2 linked regions of the Homo sapiens genome follow. The protein of the gene in region 1 interacts with the protein of each later gene in a biochemical or structural test. Each region holds a gene or a part of one and is shown on either strand. Other genes may lie near its edges.

The links. The genes of interacting proteins can lie anywhere in the genome.
Region 2: the proteins of TRIM34 (region 1) and ZBP1 form a complex in vitro, tested with the Homo sapiens proteins (one study listed by BioGRID).

Annotation. Positions count from the first base shown.
Region 1 is NC_000011.10:5,627,998-5,635,021, forward strand, and holds part of TRIM34 (E3 ubiquitin-protein ligase TRIM34), read left to right. Parts: intron 1-4,257; coding exon of another isoform or gene 4,258-4,334; coding exon 4,335-4,757; intron 4,758-5,806; coding exon 5,807-5,902; intron 5,903-6,633; coding exon 6,634-6,864; intron 6,865-7,024. Other genes in the region: TRIM6-TRIM34 (tripartite motif-containing 6 and tripartite motif-containing 34), read left to right, coding at 4,258-4,757, 5,807-5,902, 6,634-6,864.
Region 2 is NC_000020.11:57,617,427-57,625,203, forward strand, and holds the start of ZBP1 (Z-DNA-binding protein 1), read right to left. Parts: upstream 3,001-7,777; 5' UTR 2,870-3,000; coding exon 2,836-2,869; intron 1-2,835.

The DNA of each region.
Region 1 (7,024 bases):
CCAGGTAACCTGGGAGTTCTGTCAGGCCAATGGCACTCATGTTCCCTTCTCTACCTCCCTGACTGCTGCTGGGCTTGAGCCACACTGGGAAGTGGTGGGGTCATTTCTCACACGTGGGACCGTGGTTACTCTGCACTTTTCTCATTCTTTTGCCATTATGGTGGCAGCAGCTTTGGCATCAACATGCATCCTCACTGTGAACATGAAGTCACAGCCCGTGGCAGAATGCATGTTCTACTACTTCCTCTCCTGGAGCCCCCCGGTATTTCTAACTATTGGTTGGATACTGATTGGAATAAAAGATAACAAAGAACCCCACATCTGTGGTTGGCTCATGGCTTTAGCCATAAACAGGGGTGAATATTATCATATCATATAAACTCCTTGTCTTACTAGTCATCAGATCCTGGTCTGACCAATGGTCATTGTAGCCAGGGGCTACCAGTATATCTCTTTTGTATGATTTTTAGTATCTGTACCATTGGCTGGATGACACTCGCCAGTCAACTTTCAGCTTTTTTTCCTCCTTAAGGTCTTTTGATGGATGGTTAGAGGAGTAGACAGGTCTCGAGGCCTAGGTTTATCTCCATACAGCTTTTATTGTACCCCATCCTTTTGCCAAGCGTGGGAAAGATTCCTAAGTTGTCACACATCACAGATCTTTCTTTCACTATCAAACCTGTTCAATTATATTAGTTTCCTAGCACTGTTGTAACCAATTATCACAAACTAGATGACTTAAAACAACAGGAATTTGTATCACAGCTCAGGAGCCCAGAAGTCCAAAACCAAGATGGCGGCAAAGTTGATTTTTTTTTTTCAGAAGGCTCTATGTGAAAATCGGTTCTATTCCTCTCTCCTAGCTTCTGGTGGTTTCTAGCAAACCTCGGCATTCTTTGGCTTATATCTGTGCTATTCCCATCTCTGCCTCTACTGTCACATGGCTTTCTTTCCCGTGTGTCTGTATGTCTTCTCCTCTTATAAAAACACAGGTCAAGGCCGGGTGCAGTGGCTCACACCTGTAATCCCAGCACTTTGGGAGGCCGAGACAGGTGGATCACCTGAGGTCAGGAGTTCAAGACCAGCATGGCCAACATGGTGAAACCCCGTCTCTACTAAAAATCTAAAAATTAGTTGGGCGTGGTGGCATACACCTGTAATCCCAGCTACTCAGGAGACTGAGGCAGGAGAATCGCTTGAACCTGGGAGGCGGGGGTTGCAGTGAGCTGAGATTGTACCATTGCATTCCAGCCTGGGCGACAGAGCGAAACTCCATCTCAAAAAAAAACAAAAACTACAGGTCATTGAATTTAGGGCCTGTCTTTATCCAGTATGACCTCATCTTAACTTGATTACACCTGCAAAGATGTGATTTTCAAATAAGTTCACATTCACATAAGTGAACAATTTTTGTGGAGGGTATAAATCTATCTACTAGAACAAGTATCAAAATGTTACTGCCTACTGAGAGCCACCCTTTTTCCCTTTGCCTCACAGTTTCTTGTCTAAACTGACCTCAGGTTCTGAGAATTGGCATTGTATCATCATGCCACTACTCTGTGGTACACCCTCTGGCTGACCACAAGCAATAATTGCAGGTTTGTTTTGCCATTTGCACTCATGCAGCTTAACTCCACAGGGGGAATACAGGACAGGAGATATAGCATGCAGACAGGGCCGCTTCAGGTGAGCTCTCCGTGAGGATTCTTTTGTTTTGTTTTGTTTTTTGAGACGGAGTCTCGCTCTGTCGCCCGGGCTGGAGTGCAGTGGTGCGATCTCGGCTCACTGGAAGCTCTGCCTCCCGGGTTCACGCCATTCTCCTGCCTTAGCCTCCCGAGTAGCTGGGACTACAGGCGCCCGCCGCCACCCCTGGCTAATTTTTGTATTTTTAGTAGAGATGGGGTTTCACCTTGTTAGCCAGGATGGTCTTGATCTCCTTACCTCGTGATCCGCCTGCCTCGGCCTCCCAAAGTGCTGAGATTACAGGGGTGAGCCACCGCGCCCGGCCTCAGTGAGGATTCTTACGGTGGTACAAGACCATGTGACCATGTGGATGCGTGTGAAACTAACGTAGCTTAGGTAAATCTTACATCAACGGATTGATTCCCTTGTAAAGACCATGAACATAGCTTCCAGGGCCCTACAGAGAATATTTTGTTACAAGAGTCTCAATCCTCTTACGGAAAATGAGGTCTGTGCTTACCAAAAAGAATAAAAATAAAATAATATACCAGGGGATGGTGATGGCGATGTGTTTTTTATAGGAAGAAAGGACTTAAGCCTAATGATAACCTTTTTTTCCCCCACATGTCTAGTCTGACTTCCAATCTTATTTCCTTTACCTTACCCTACTTCCCACCCTCATCTGCTTCTCTCTGTTAACTTGTCCTGCATCCTCCCATCCCTGCCCCCACCTCCTATTCATTGGAAAGAGACTGTCACTTTTACTTCATTTAGGAAGTGTCACATATCCAGGTTCCTCTAGGCTCATGTGAGGCCAAGGCCTAGGGCTTTTTGCATATCAGCCACACATTTAAAAACTTTCGAACATGTTATGATGCTATGTCCTCCATGAACGGGGCATTCACTTCCATGATTCCTTCTGCCTAAAATATTTGTTTTCTTTCTCATTCTGTATTCCTTTCTCATTATTCAGCTTTCATTAAACTCTTACTTATCCAAGCAAGATATCTTGGATAGTTCTCTATTTAGCACATTATTTGGTCTTCTAAAAACCTATACCTCTCTATGATGGTGTTTTTTACACCTACCATTTTACATTTTATGAATGATTATATAATTAGCTTCTATCTTCTTAGGTGACTGTTTACTTTATTCTGGCTAATACCATCTGTTCATTACTCAACTTTGGATTTTAATCCATTTCCTGAATTTTAATCACGGAAGATAATATGTCTTCAGTGAGAATTTCCAAAATAAACACATGAATAATTGGCATTCAATTAGTGGATGTGGATTTAACACAGACAGAACTTCATCGCTCCTAAATGTGGTCTCCCTTTATGTATTGGGACATCTCTCTCATGGCCAACAGCCATCTCCTTGCTATTTCTATTCCTCGATGATCTGACATTGGTATGAATCTGTGATCTATGTGTAATTCAGCTGGTTACACCCCTCCCCCAACGAATACACACCTTTGGGTTCCTATCAACCTCTGTAACATCCTTCAGGCCAAGAAGAAATCCTACCATCTACAAACACAAGACCCCCCCAGAAATTCCCAACTTATGTGGTTTCCTCCATTTCTACACTCTCATAACCCTGGATCCCAATCTACTTCTTTCAGGCTTTACCTCGGCTTTTCTTTGTTTAAATAAGTGGAGTAGCATGGAGACCTCTGAAAGAGAACTCTGAGGGTATTATGTTCACTCCAATTCTACCATCGAATTGGGTGATCTTTGTAAATCATTTAATTTTATTTATTCATCTGAAGAAAGGGAGTACTCTTATTTCTCAAGAATTTTGGAAGGAGGAACAAACAGGCCAAAGTGATTTTTAAATTGTAACTGGTAATGAAATCTCCATATTGTGGTCATTGCTGTTTCTGTCGGTATCTCTGGAAAGTCTGTGAGGGCATGGGAGGATTTTGTGTGGGTAGATGTGTTAGGAGGCGAGCACTTCTTCACTGGAAACCACATCTGGGGTTCTAAAGTTCAGCTATTGAAGAATTTCCAAATAATGGAAGGAAGATAATGAAACAATGATAAAGTTTTAGTCATCTGTGGAGAGACAGGGAAGTTTTTTTTATATGTTTATCAAACATTGTGCTTCTCTGTGTTCTAAACACTGAGGCTATAGCAGTAAAAAGACAAAAGTGCCTAATCTACATGTAGATTATGTTTTAGAAAGAAGAGGTGGACATTTAAAAATAGATAATGATAATAAAAGAAAGATGGCAAATGTACACTGAATGATGAGTTTGTGGTTGTGCTGTACTTAAGTTTGTCTTAGCAGCCCTTCTGATGAAGGGACATGTAAGGAGAAAGTTGAAAAAAGTATAAACGAAAGTCATGCAAATAGCAACAGGATGGTAATTCTAGGCTGAGTAATGAACAAGTGCAAAAGCCTTGAGGCATTAACAGCTCGCCCAGACCACTTTCAGCCATTTTTGGTTTCTCTTCCTCATCTTCTTTGTTCTTTGATATTGCAGTCTCGGCCAGTCTTTATTGTCTGTGCAATTAGAATGCTTTTTATTTGTACCATTCTTATACCATCCCCTTTCAATCTTCTCAGCCATCCAGGGGTCTTTAACCAGAAGAGAGAGGAGAGCCTCAGGAGTTAGGACCAGAAGAAGCCAGGGAAGCAGTGCAATGGCTTCAAAAATCTTGCTTAACGTACAAGAGGAGGTGACCTGTCCCATCTGCCTGGAGCTGTTGACAGAACCCTTGAGTCTAGACTGTGGCCACAGCCTCTGCCGAGCCTGCATCACTGTGAGCAACAAGGAGGCAGTGACCAGCATGGGAGGAAAAAGCAGCTGTCCTGTGTGTGGTATCAGTTACTCATTTGAACATCTACAGGCTAATCAGCATCTGGCCAACATAGTGGAGAGACTCAAGGAGGTCAAGTTGAGCCCAGACAATGGGAAGAAGAGAGATCTCTGTGATCATCATGGAGAGAAACTCCTACTCTTCTGTAAGGAGGATAGGAAAGTCATTTGCTGGCTTTGTGAGCGGTCTCAGGAGCACCGTGGTCACCACACAGTCCTCACGGAGGAAGTATTCAAGGAATGTCAGGTAGGGCCCTAGATGGAGGGAGATGGGGCAGAAGATGGTAGTTGGTGGAAAATCTCACCTTTTCATCCTTTTTTTTTTTTTTTTTTTTTTGAGACAGAGTCTCACTCTGTCGCCCAGGCTGGAGTGCAGTGGCGTGCTCTCGGCTCACTGCAACCTCTGCCCTCTGAGTTCAAGTAATTTTCCTGCCTCAGCCTCCCAAGTAGCTCGGATTACAGGCGCCTGCCACCGCGCCTGGCTAATTTTTTTTTTTTTTTTTTGGATTTTTAGTAGAGACGGGATTTCACCATCTTGGCCAGGCTGGTCTTGAACTCCTAATCTTGTGATCCACCCACCTCGGCCTCCCAAAGTGCTGGGATTACAGGTGTGAGCCACCATGCCCGGCCTTTTCTTTCTTTTTTTTTTTTTTTTTTTGTGAGCAATAAAGCTTTTTAATCACCTGGGTGCAGGCGGACTGAGTCTGAAAAAGGAGTCAGCCCTTTTCATCCTTCTTTACCCCCTGTGGAACCATAATTCTGAGTCCCGTGATCTTCTCCATGTACATCTTTCACACTGTGCTCAGCTTCCAATGCCTGGGGTACACTCTTGTGTATTCCTTTCATTTACATAACAGATGATCCTAGAGTACAGTCTCTTAGCCAAGAATGAGAAATTTTTGTCTTGTTTTTTCCTTTTTCATTGTATAAGTGATAAATTCCTTCCCAAAGTTAGCTCTCTTGCTTCTCTAAGCAGGATAATTGCTAAGGAACATTGTGGATTGAATGAGGAAAGAGCATTGATAAGAGGAAAGGACTTTCTGCAGGGTAAATACTTACTCTAAGGAAAGACAGAATCAGGCTACTCCTTTTGAGGGGTATTGATTTTCATCACAATGAATGAACAATACATTCATCTCCTCAAAATTTTCCCCATGTCATAGATTCTAATCACCAGCTTCACAGTTTCTGTAAATTGCTTTTTTCTGGGATCAACTTGATTTTTTCCCTGTTTGTCCTCTATCCAGATACTAAGAAAGCTTATAGCTTGACTGTAGTGTGATTCCCTTCTCATAGGAGAAACTCCAGGCAGTCCTCAAGAGGCTGAAGAAGGAAGAGGAGGAAGCTGAGAAGCTGGAAGCTGACATCAGAGAAGAGAAAACTTCCTGGAAGGCAAGAGGAGATTCTGAAGGTTTTCTGAGACAGGAATCTTGACAGGACCTTAATCCAAGGAGGCCTCGTCCTTTTTATTCCTTGACATTGCATGAGTCCTGAAGCCATTTGATTAGTTCTCTTCTCTGTCCTGTCCCTGTTGGGGGTGGAGGCTAGAAAGTGGACATGTTACAATTACACATACATACCTGGAACTGAGCACAAAGATAGACTCTATGATGAGGAAGGCTAGCAAATACTGTGTTCCATTGCTCTTTTCCAACGGGGCTCTACTACTTCTGGTGGAAGACACTACATAAAGGACTATGGTTTTCCTCAAGATTCAAATTAGGAGTGTGGTAAGGCAGGCAGTCATGAATATCCAGGAAAGCTATCTAGAAGCTAAGCCTTATGTTTTATATTTTGTCTCAGGGTTGGCCTAGATAAGACAGTTTGAGGTCATTGTTTTGGTAGGTACTGAAAGGAAAATAGTAGGAAAAAATAGCTTCCCTCCAAGTACCTCTATTGCTTCTACTCCCTTGCTGATTTGAACTCCCTGAAAAAAAAAATCGATATATAGATAATACAAATATATATATACAGATAATATAAATACACACACACACACACACACACACACACACACACACACATATATATATATATATATTTCCCTACTGGCTCCTAATCCCTTGCACAATAGGCCTTAGCCTGACAAACTTACTACAACTCTCTCTTGTCCATCCTTGCAGTATCAGGTACAAACTGAGAGACAAAGGATACAAACAGAATTTGATCAGCTTAGAAGCATCCTAAATAATGAGGAGCAGAGAGAGCTGCAAAGATTGGAAGAAGAAGAAAAGAAGACGCTGGATAAGTTTGCAGAGGCTGAGGATGAGCTAGTTCAGCAGAAGCAGTTGGTGAGAGAGCTCATCTCAGATGTGGAGTGTCGGAGTCAGTGGTCAACAATGGAGCTGCTGCAGGTAAGAAGGTTCGCTCAATCTGAGATTCTGGGAACACAGTTCCCTCCTGTGTCCTTGCGTTCTCATCCTGGTGGTGACACTAAGGGGTTTCTTTGGCCTTGCAGTGCCGCCTTGTCGTCCATTCTAGATGTCATGGACATGAATGACATTTTTATTAATT
Region 2 (7,777 bases), on another chromosome or scaffold:
CAGAACTTCCCCTAGTGTCCCCTGCTGTGCTTGCATGGCTCACTGTTGTACCTTCAGCATCTAGCACAGTGCTGGGCACACAGTAGGTGCTCAGGAAATGGCAGTTGAATGTATGAGTGACTGAGTGAATGAATGAATGAATGAATGGGGCCAGGAGTGGTGGCTCACACTTGTAATCCTAGCACATCAGAAGGCTGAGATGGGAGGACCCCTAGAGGCCAGGAGTTCTAGACCAGCCTGGGCAACATAGTGAGACCCCCATCTCTACAAAAAAAGAGAAAAATCAGGTAGGTACGATGGCATATGCCTGTAGTCCCAGCTGCTTAAGAGGCTAAAAGTGGGAGGATCGCTTGAATCTAGGAGGTAGCAGTTGCAGTGAGCTATGAATGCACCACTGCACTCCAGCCTGGACAAGACCCCATCTCTGGAAAAAAAAAAAAAAAGGACTGAATGAGTGAGTGTCTGTCTCTAGGGACAGACGTTTACCCAATAGACCCTGGGCAGGGCCCGGGTAGCTTCTCCTTGGCCAGTTGGCAATGTGCTGCTGTTTCCTGGCCTGAGTTTAATGAGGACTAAGCAGGACCCCAAGAGGTTCAAGGAGGAATTCTCCAAATGGCCCCTGCTCCTCCTGAGGCAGCTCTTAAAAATCAAAACCATTAGCTCACACAATGATTAAAAGATCAAAGCCAGCTGCTCTGCCCAGAGATGAGGCTGGGGCAGACGCAGGTTACGGGCAGCACCTGGCAGCCAGCAGCCTGGGAGAGCCACTGTGGGCGGGGGCCCCACCTGTCACCAGGAAGCTTCTGCTTCAAGGAACCTGAGGGCAGTGCATGGGAGAGCCCTTCTTGGAAAGACCTGAGTTCCCCTTCCAGGACAGTGACTCAGTCCTTTGTCATCTGGGCTTTCTTTCCTGTTCAGAGGATTCTCCAGGTTTGCCCAGGGTTCCTTGGTCACAGCACTTGTAGGGGAGGGAAGAATCAGTTTGTGCCTCACCCTGATGGTTACAACGCTGACCGGCTTGCCGTGTGCAGGTGAAGACCAATTAGAAGACCTGGGAATTCCCACTCCTGCGCCCACCAAACTCCCCCACCGGCAGCCAGCAGCACCTCCATGCACCTGACTTCACACCTGGCTTCACCTTGTCTCGCAGAGTTTTTTGTTTTTTGGTTTTGAGATGGAATTTCGTTCTTGTTGCCTGGTCTGCGGCTGCAGTGGTGTGATCTCGGCTCACTGCAACCTCCACCTCCTGGGTTCAAGCAATTCTCTTGCCTCAGTCTCTCAAGTAGCTGAGATTACAGGCACGCACCACTACACCCGGCTGATTTTTGTATTTTTAGTAGAGACAGGGTTTCCCTTTTTGGCCAGGCTGGTGTCAAACTCCTGACCTTGGGTGATCCCCGCAACTCAGCCTCCCAAAGTGCTGGGATTGCAGGCGTGAGCCACTGCGCCTGGCCGCAGTTTTGATTCTGGAAGGCTGACCTTAGGGAGCCACTGCCTCGGCTCCACACACCCCAGAGGAGATGGGGGTCAGAGGTGTGGATGCAGGACAAGCACTGGCCCTGGGCTGGCCTCGACTGCTGAGTCCCAGGCTACTGTGTCTGAAAATGGGAAATTGTAAAATGGAGCAGGTGTAGGCAACAATTTGGTCACAAAAGGAAAATCAACTGGGGAGGAAGACAAGAAAAGCCAGCGAGGGCTGAGTCCGGAACCTGCGTCAGCACCCGTGAGTCCCCGAAGAGGAAGCTCCACAGGACCTCCGCGGTCAGCCCGGCTCCTGGGCCACACCCTGACATTAGCCCTCCCGGGGCACACTCTGTGTTGGTTTTTTAAAATTCTGATGGCTGATTTCCTGGGTTTGAGCTCCTAGCCCTGCCAACTACTAGCTGTGTGACCTCCCCTCCGGCTTCAGGTTCCTCTTCTGTGAAATGGAGACAGTAATAACTACTTCAAAGATTGTGGTGAGGATTAAAAACAAAACAAACACATCCCCCAAACCGCAAAACCACACTTCACCTACAGTCCACAGCGCTTAGTGGAGACCCTAGAGAACAGCAATTACTCGATACACTATTGGCTTTCATTGCAACTCTTCCAGGAATAAAATGAATGAAATGTTAGTTGAGGAAAGGATGCAACAAGGGGGAACAAAGGCACACATGTATCTCATCAAAGCAAACCGCTTTGTTCTCGATATGACTGTGACATGGGTGTTCAGACGCTAACACCAGCGTTCGCCAGCTGTGTTACCCTGAGAGTGTCATTTCACCTCTCAGGGCCTCAGTTATCTATAAAATGGGAATGACATGGCACTTGTCCCTGCAGGCCATCAGGAAATGCTTGGAAAGCATGTTTCGAGGTGCCTGGGGCACAGTCAGCTGTCAAAGGGGGATGGCTATGCTGTCCCTTTCTATTTTTTTTTTTTTTTTCTGAGATGGAATCTCACTCTGTCACCCAGTCTGGAGTGCAATGGCGACATCTCAGCTCACTACAACTTCCACCTCCCGGGTTCAAGCGATTCTCCAGCCTCAGCATCCCGAGTAGCTGGGATCACAGGCATGCGCCACCATGCCCGGTTAATTTTTGTAATTTTAGTAGAGATGGGGTTTCGCCATGTTGGCCAGGCTAGTGTCAAACTCCTGAGCTTAAACAGTCCACCTACCTCGCCTCCCAAAGTGCTGGGATTACAGGCGTGAGCCACCACGCCCAGCTGGTCTACTATTCTTTAGGATACTGCTATTGTCATCATGATCTGGACCAAGCGAAACAGGAGGAAAGAGAAGTAGAAATCTCACCCCGGGAGCTACCGCTGGTCCTTGGAAGGAAGAAGTACTGTACCTTCTCTGCCCGGGTCAGCAGGAGCCTGGGCCATGCTGACAGCAGCTGCAAGGAGTCGGAGAGACTTGGCAGGTGTGCAGGCTTCTGCACTGTGGCCCTGAGAGGGTGGGCTAGGTCGAGGCTGGGGCTTCTGAAGTGGCCGAGCCTGGTGCTTCTTGCAGCTCTGAACCCACAAGGGGAGGGATGCCAGCTTCCACTGGGCAGGTGTCAGCTGCTTACAGCCCGGAAATAGATGCCTAGCCAGGCCGGCCAGATTCGGTTTCAGGAGAAAAAGAAAATGAAACTTCTCTGTTCGTCTTTTGAAAGAAAAAAAAAGTGGAAGCCAGGTGGATGAGCAAGACAGAGTTGGGGACCTGACTTGATGTTGACAGGGAGGAGCTGTAAACTTGGCAAGACCAGAGCGTCCTCCGAAGAGGCCTTTGAGACAGAGGACTTCCCTCACCTTCCCCGTTCCAGGCACAGCCCACCTGGACCTCTACATTTTTATTTTCTGAATCAGCATCAGAGAACTGAAGAAAATAAAAATAAAAAAAAGAGCATGCACCACGTGGAGGGGGATGCCAGGGCGTGGCATCACTCTGATGATGTGAGGGGCTGGGGCTGGTTATCTGGTTTCTGTGTTTTTGTTTGTTTTTGAGACAGGGTTTCTGTCATCCAGGCTGGAGTGCAGTGGCGTGATCACGGCTCACGGCAGCCTCGACCTTCCGGACTCCAGCGATCCTCCCACCTCTCAGCCTCCCTAGTAGCTGGGACCACAGGCCTAGACCACCATGCCCGGCTAATTTTTGTATTTTCTGTAGAGATGGGGTTTCATCGTGTTGCCCAGGCTGGTCTCAAACTCCTGGGCTCAAGCGATCTGCCTGCCTTGGCCTCCCACAGTGCTGGGATTCCAGCCGCAAGCCCCCACGCCCGGCCCCGCTGGTTCCTGTAGTACTTCCTCCTCGGGGACTCACAGGTGCTACAGAGGCACCGTCCCCAGCTCTCAGTGGCTTTTCTTGTCTTCTTCCAGTTTGTTTCCCTTGCCCACACTAGGGGCAGAACATTTAGGTGCGTGAAGGCCCTGAGATTGTTCTTGTGTGTATCCATGTGAGCCTCTTTAATGAACACCTATTATGCGTTTTCCAATCTCAAGTGCTCCTCCAACCCATCTACAGGGTAGGGGCCAGTTCTGTCTTCTTCTCAGGGGGGAAACTGAGGCTAGAAAGGCAAGATCACTTGTCCAAGGCCACACAGAGTCCATGACAGAGCTTGTCCTGTCCATTCCCCAATTGTGTTTCCTGATCTATAACACCCAGAAGTCACTGGTGAATCACCCTTAGTGCACAGATGGCGTGGAGTTCCCCGCCTCATCATAAAACTTGCTTATTAATTCCAGAGTCAGATGCCTGGGGTCAGCAGCCGAGTGGTTCGGAATGCAAGCCTGGGTCAGCATGCTTGGGTCCAAACCTGGCTCCGCCATTTACCGGCTGTGTGACCTCGGACAAATTATTTAACCCCTCTGTGCCTCAGTTTCCCCATGTGTAAAAGGACTTAATCAAAGGACCTAGCGCATGGGGTCGAGGTGAGGACCTAAGGGGCTGATACAGCCCAGCTGTCGGGCTAGAGCCCCAGAGCCATCCGTAGTCACGGGCACCGTGGTCACCTCACAGGAATGCTTCTGGGAGAGGACCCGTTGCTTACATAATTCTCAAAAGGGCCAGTGACCTCAGAAAAACTCAGAGCCACTGTTCTCTTCCAGATCACAGAAGGAGGAACTGAGGCCCACAGAGGTGAATGCTGTGTACAAGGCCCCCCAGCTTTTGGCAGCCAAGGGGGTTGAGAGCTCAGCCCTGGAAGTCCCTGGACTTGGGGTCTGTGTCTCATCTGCAGAGGGCTGGGAGGGCTAGAGACGTCTGTGCTCCTTGCAGACCCCATTTATGCATAAGGAGCAGCTTAGCGGCAAATACAAATGGAAAGGGGGTCCGGAGGTTTATCCTGAAGCTATCTGTCTTTGCAGAGCGAGCACCTGGAGCCCAGGTCTTCCGCCCTGCCTGCATGTTAAGTGTTTGAAGCAAAAAAAAAGTCTCAATGCCCAGGCCGGCCCAGACTAGTCAACTCCAACCTCTGCGGCTGGGGCCCGAGGGTGAGATTTTTTATGCTCCTGGGTGACTTTTCCTGCTTCCAGGTGGAGAACCAGTAAGTCTGGGGCAAGTCAATAACAGCAAACTGCAGGATGCTTTTATTCTCCTTTTATGTAAAAGCGAAAACTGCAGGTATCACCCTATGAAATAACAATAGTGCTCTTTAAATGGGGGGGTAGGTGGGGTGCTGAGGGAGATGATGAAGGTGCCCTCCGGAAGGGGCTCCGGCTGAGCCCTGCAAGGCTGAGTCCCTTGGGTGTCTGGGGTGCCACGCCCGAACTGGCCACCAGGTGATGCCGCTCACCAACCTGGGCTTGGGCGCACCTTGGCTTCAAGTTCCCTCTGATCTGCAGGGAGGAGCTCCTACCCCAACCCATGGTTGGACTCCAGACTTGATGAATCACAGCTCCAAGACGTGCCCACCCCTCCCACTGCCTTGTCCTGCATCATCCTTTATTCTTCCTGTCTCTTCAGTCACTCATCGTGGTTTCTTCACTCATCTTTCCTGGAAGGAGTCAGATTCCAGCTGTTTCTCTGTGAAGCCTCCAGGCAGTTCTTTGTGCTCTTCCGGCCTGGCCTCCCAGTGTTGGTCTTGACACAGCCCACCACTCCCCCGTGGGGAAACTCTCTCTCCCCCCATCTCCAGGGCCCATGCTAGCTTCTCCCCTTCCTTCCCTGGCCTCTGCAGCTCAGGCCTTGACCCCAGGTCCCTGGTGGGCTTGCAGGTCAGGTTGAGGGATGTTAGCTTGGTCTTGGGTGCCAGCCTTACTTCTAGGAAGATGGCTTCTGCTGCAGGGAGGAGGCTGGTGCCCCTCACGGCTGGTCTCCATCCAGACTGTGCTTGGATGACCCCTTTCTGTCCCCGTGGCCACATCCTGAAGGCACATGGAGCCCCTCTGGGCCTGAGCCATTTTTAGGAGTCTGTAGCAGGGACCACCATGCCAGTGGAGACCAAGCGCCTCGGGAAGTTCCCTGGACAAGGATTCTGTCTTGTCTCTTCTCCAGGGCAGGTTCTCCTTCCCAGCTGTGTGGCGCTACCTCTCTGAGCCGCGGTTTCTTTAACTATAAAGCAGAGATACTAAGAAAAAGCATTTTTGACACTTAGTATGTGCTCACAACATTTGCATAAGTTAGAAAACATGATGCATCTCCACAGTATCTCTTTAGACAGCAAACAAACAAAAGAGAGCAATAGACAAAAAGAAGAAAACATTTCACGTGGGTAGGTTCCACCTTTCTTTGCATTCCATGGCACATCTGGAGATGAAGCCAGGAATCTGCTATGTGCTTGTCACCCACTGAGTGGGAGTCTTACTTTTAAATACTTAGATTGCCTTTATTTCTCTTCTCTATTTAAGAGCTGTTTAAGTTGAGTTTGACCCTAAGGATTATCTTTAAGCCTAAATACCAGTGGCTAAAACAATAGAGTTGTGTCTTTTTCTTGAAAGAGTTGTAGGCATTCCAGGTTTAGTGTGGTGACCTGGGGTCCTTCTACATTGTCGGTCTGCCATTTGTGGCCTTCATTCTCAAGTTTGCCTTACATTTTAGAATGGCTGCTAAGCTCCAGCCATTACATCTGCATTCCTTCCAGCAGGGAGTAGGAAAGGGAACAAGGGCAGATATCTCCCTTTAAGCACGCATCTTACAAGTTGCACACACATTCCACTAATACCCCATTGGTCAGTCTTGTGGCTCTTATCTGTAAGGGGAGGCCTGGAAAGATGGTCTGTATTGTGGGTCACCATGTGCTCAGCTAAAATTGGGGTTCTATGACTTTAAAATGGGGGACAGTAGATATTGGCAGAGACCTAGCTATCTCTGCCATTTCAAGGTTCCCTGGTGTCCCCAAGAAAGGAGCAAAGATACCTCCTCTGTGCCTTCAGGTGTGTCCATTCACGGGGTTCATTTATTCAGCAGTTGCTGTGCCTCCTTACTCTGCCTGGAAAGGGCCTCAAAGGCCACAAGACTTCCAAGATGGCACCACTGCCTGCTGGAGTCCTCATCTCCTTTTGCCTTGGAAGGCGCACTCCCTGTTCATGGCTTGTGTTTTTCTGGAAACTATTAGAGCTCTCCGCCCAAACCAGATGATAATTACATGTTACTGATCTTGAGTCTTTAAATTTTTCTCTCTCTCTTTTAAAAGAGAGATATTTTTACTGCACATTGTGTTGACAAAACCCAAGTCTCCCTTCTACCAGGCAGCCTGGATTTTATTTTCAGATTTCCTCTGTGAATTCATGCAGGGGGAGGAGGTGGAAAGGTACTGAATGTGAATAATAACATGTCTTTGGTCAGGGACAAGGGTCAGAGAACCAGGGGTGGCTGAAGAGGGGAATGGAGATTGCCCAAGGTCACAAAGTCATCCTCCTGGGGTGGAATGAAGACTGAGTAAAACTGGTGTGTCCAGGAAAGCAGGTTTTCATTGCAGTCCCTAGAGGAGTCTGCCCTGGCCCTGTTCTCTGCTCTTCCAGGCAGAGCTGTTGATGGGGCCTCCATTGTTTATCTGTATCCATTGGAGTTGAAGAGACCTGGGGTTCTGGTCTTGGCACCCAGCTTTTTAACTCTGTGCCTTGAGCAAGTTACTGCTCTGTCTGAGGCTCAGTTTATGTCTTTGTAAAGGGGGTCATAGAAGTACTTACCTTGTGGGATTGTTGCACAGGTTAAATGGGATTGTGTACCTGTAGGTCCTAGTAGAGCACTGGGCACATAGTATGTGCTCAATAAACAGGAGCTAGTCATGTTATCACCATGTGATGCTCAGCTGTCCCTCTCTCTGGTAATAAAGCAATCCTATTCACTCACCTGATCATTTGCCAAATACT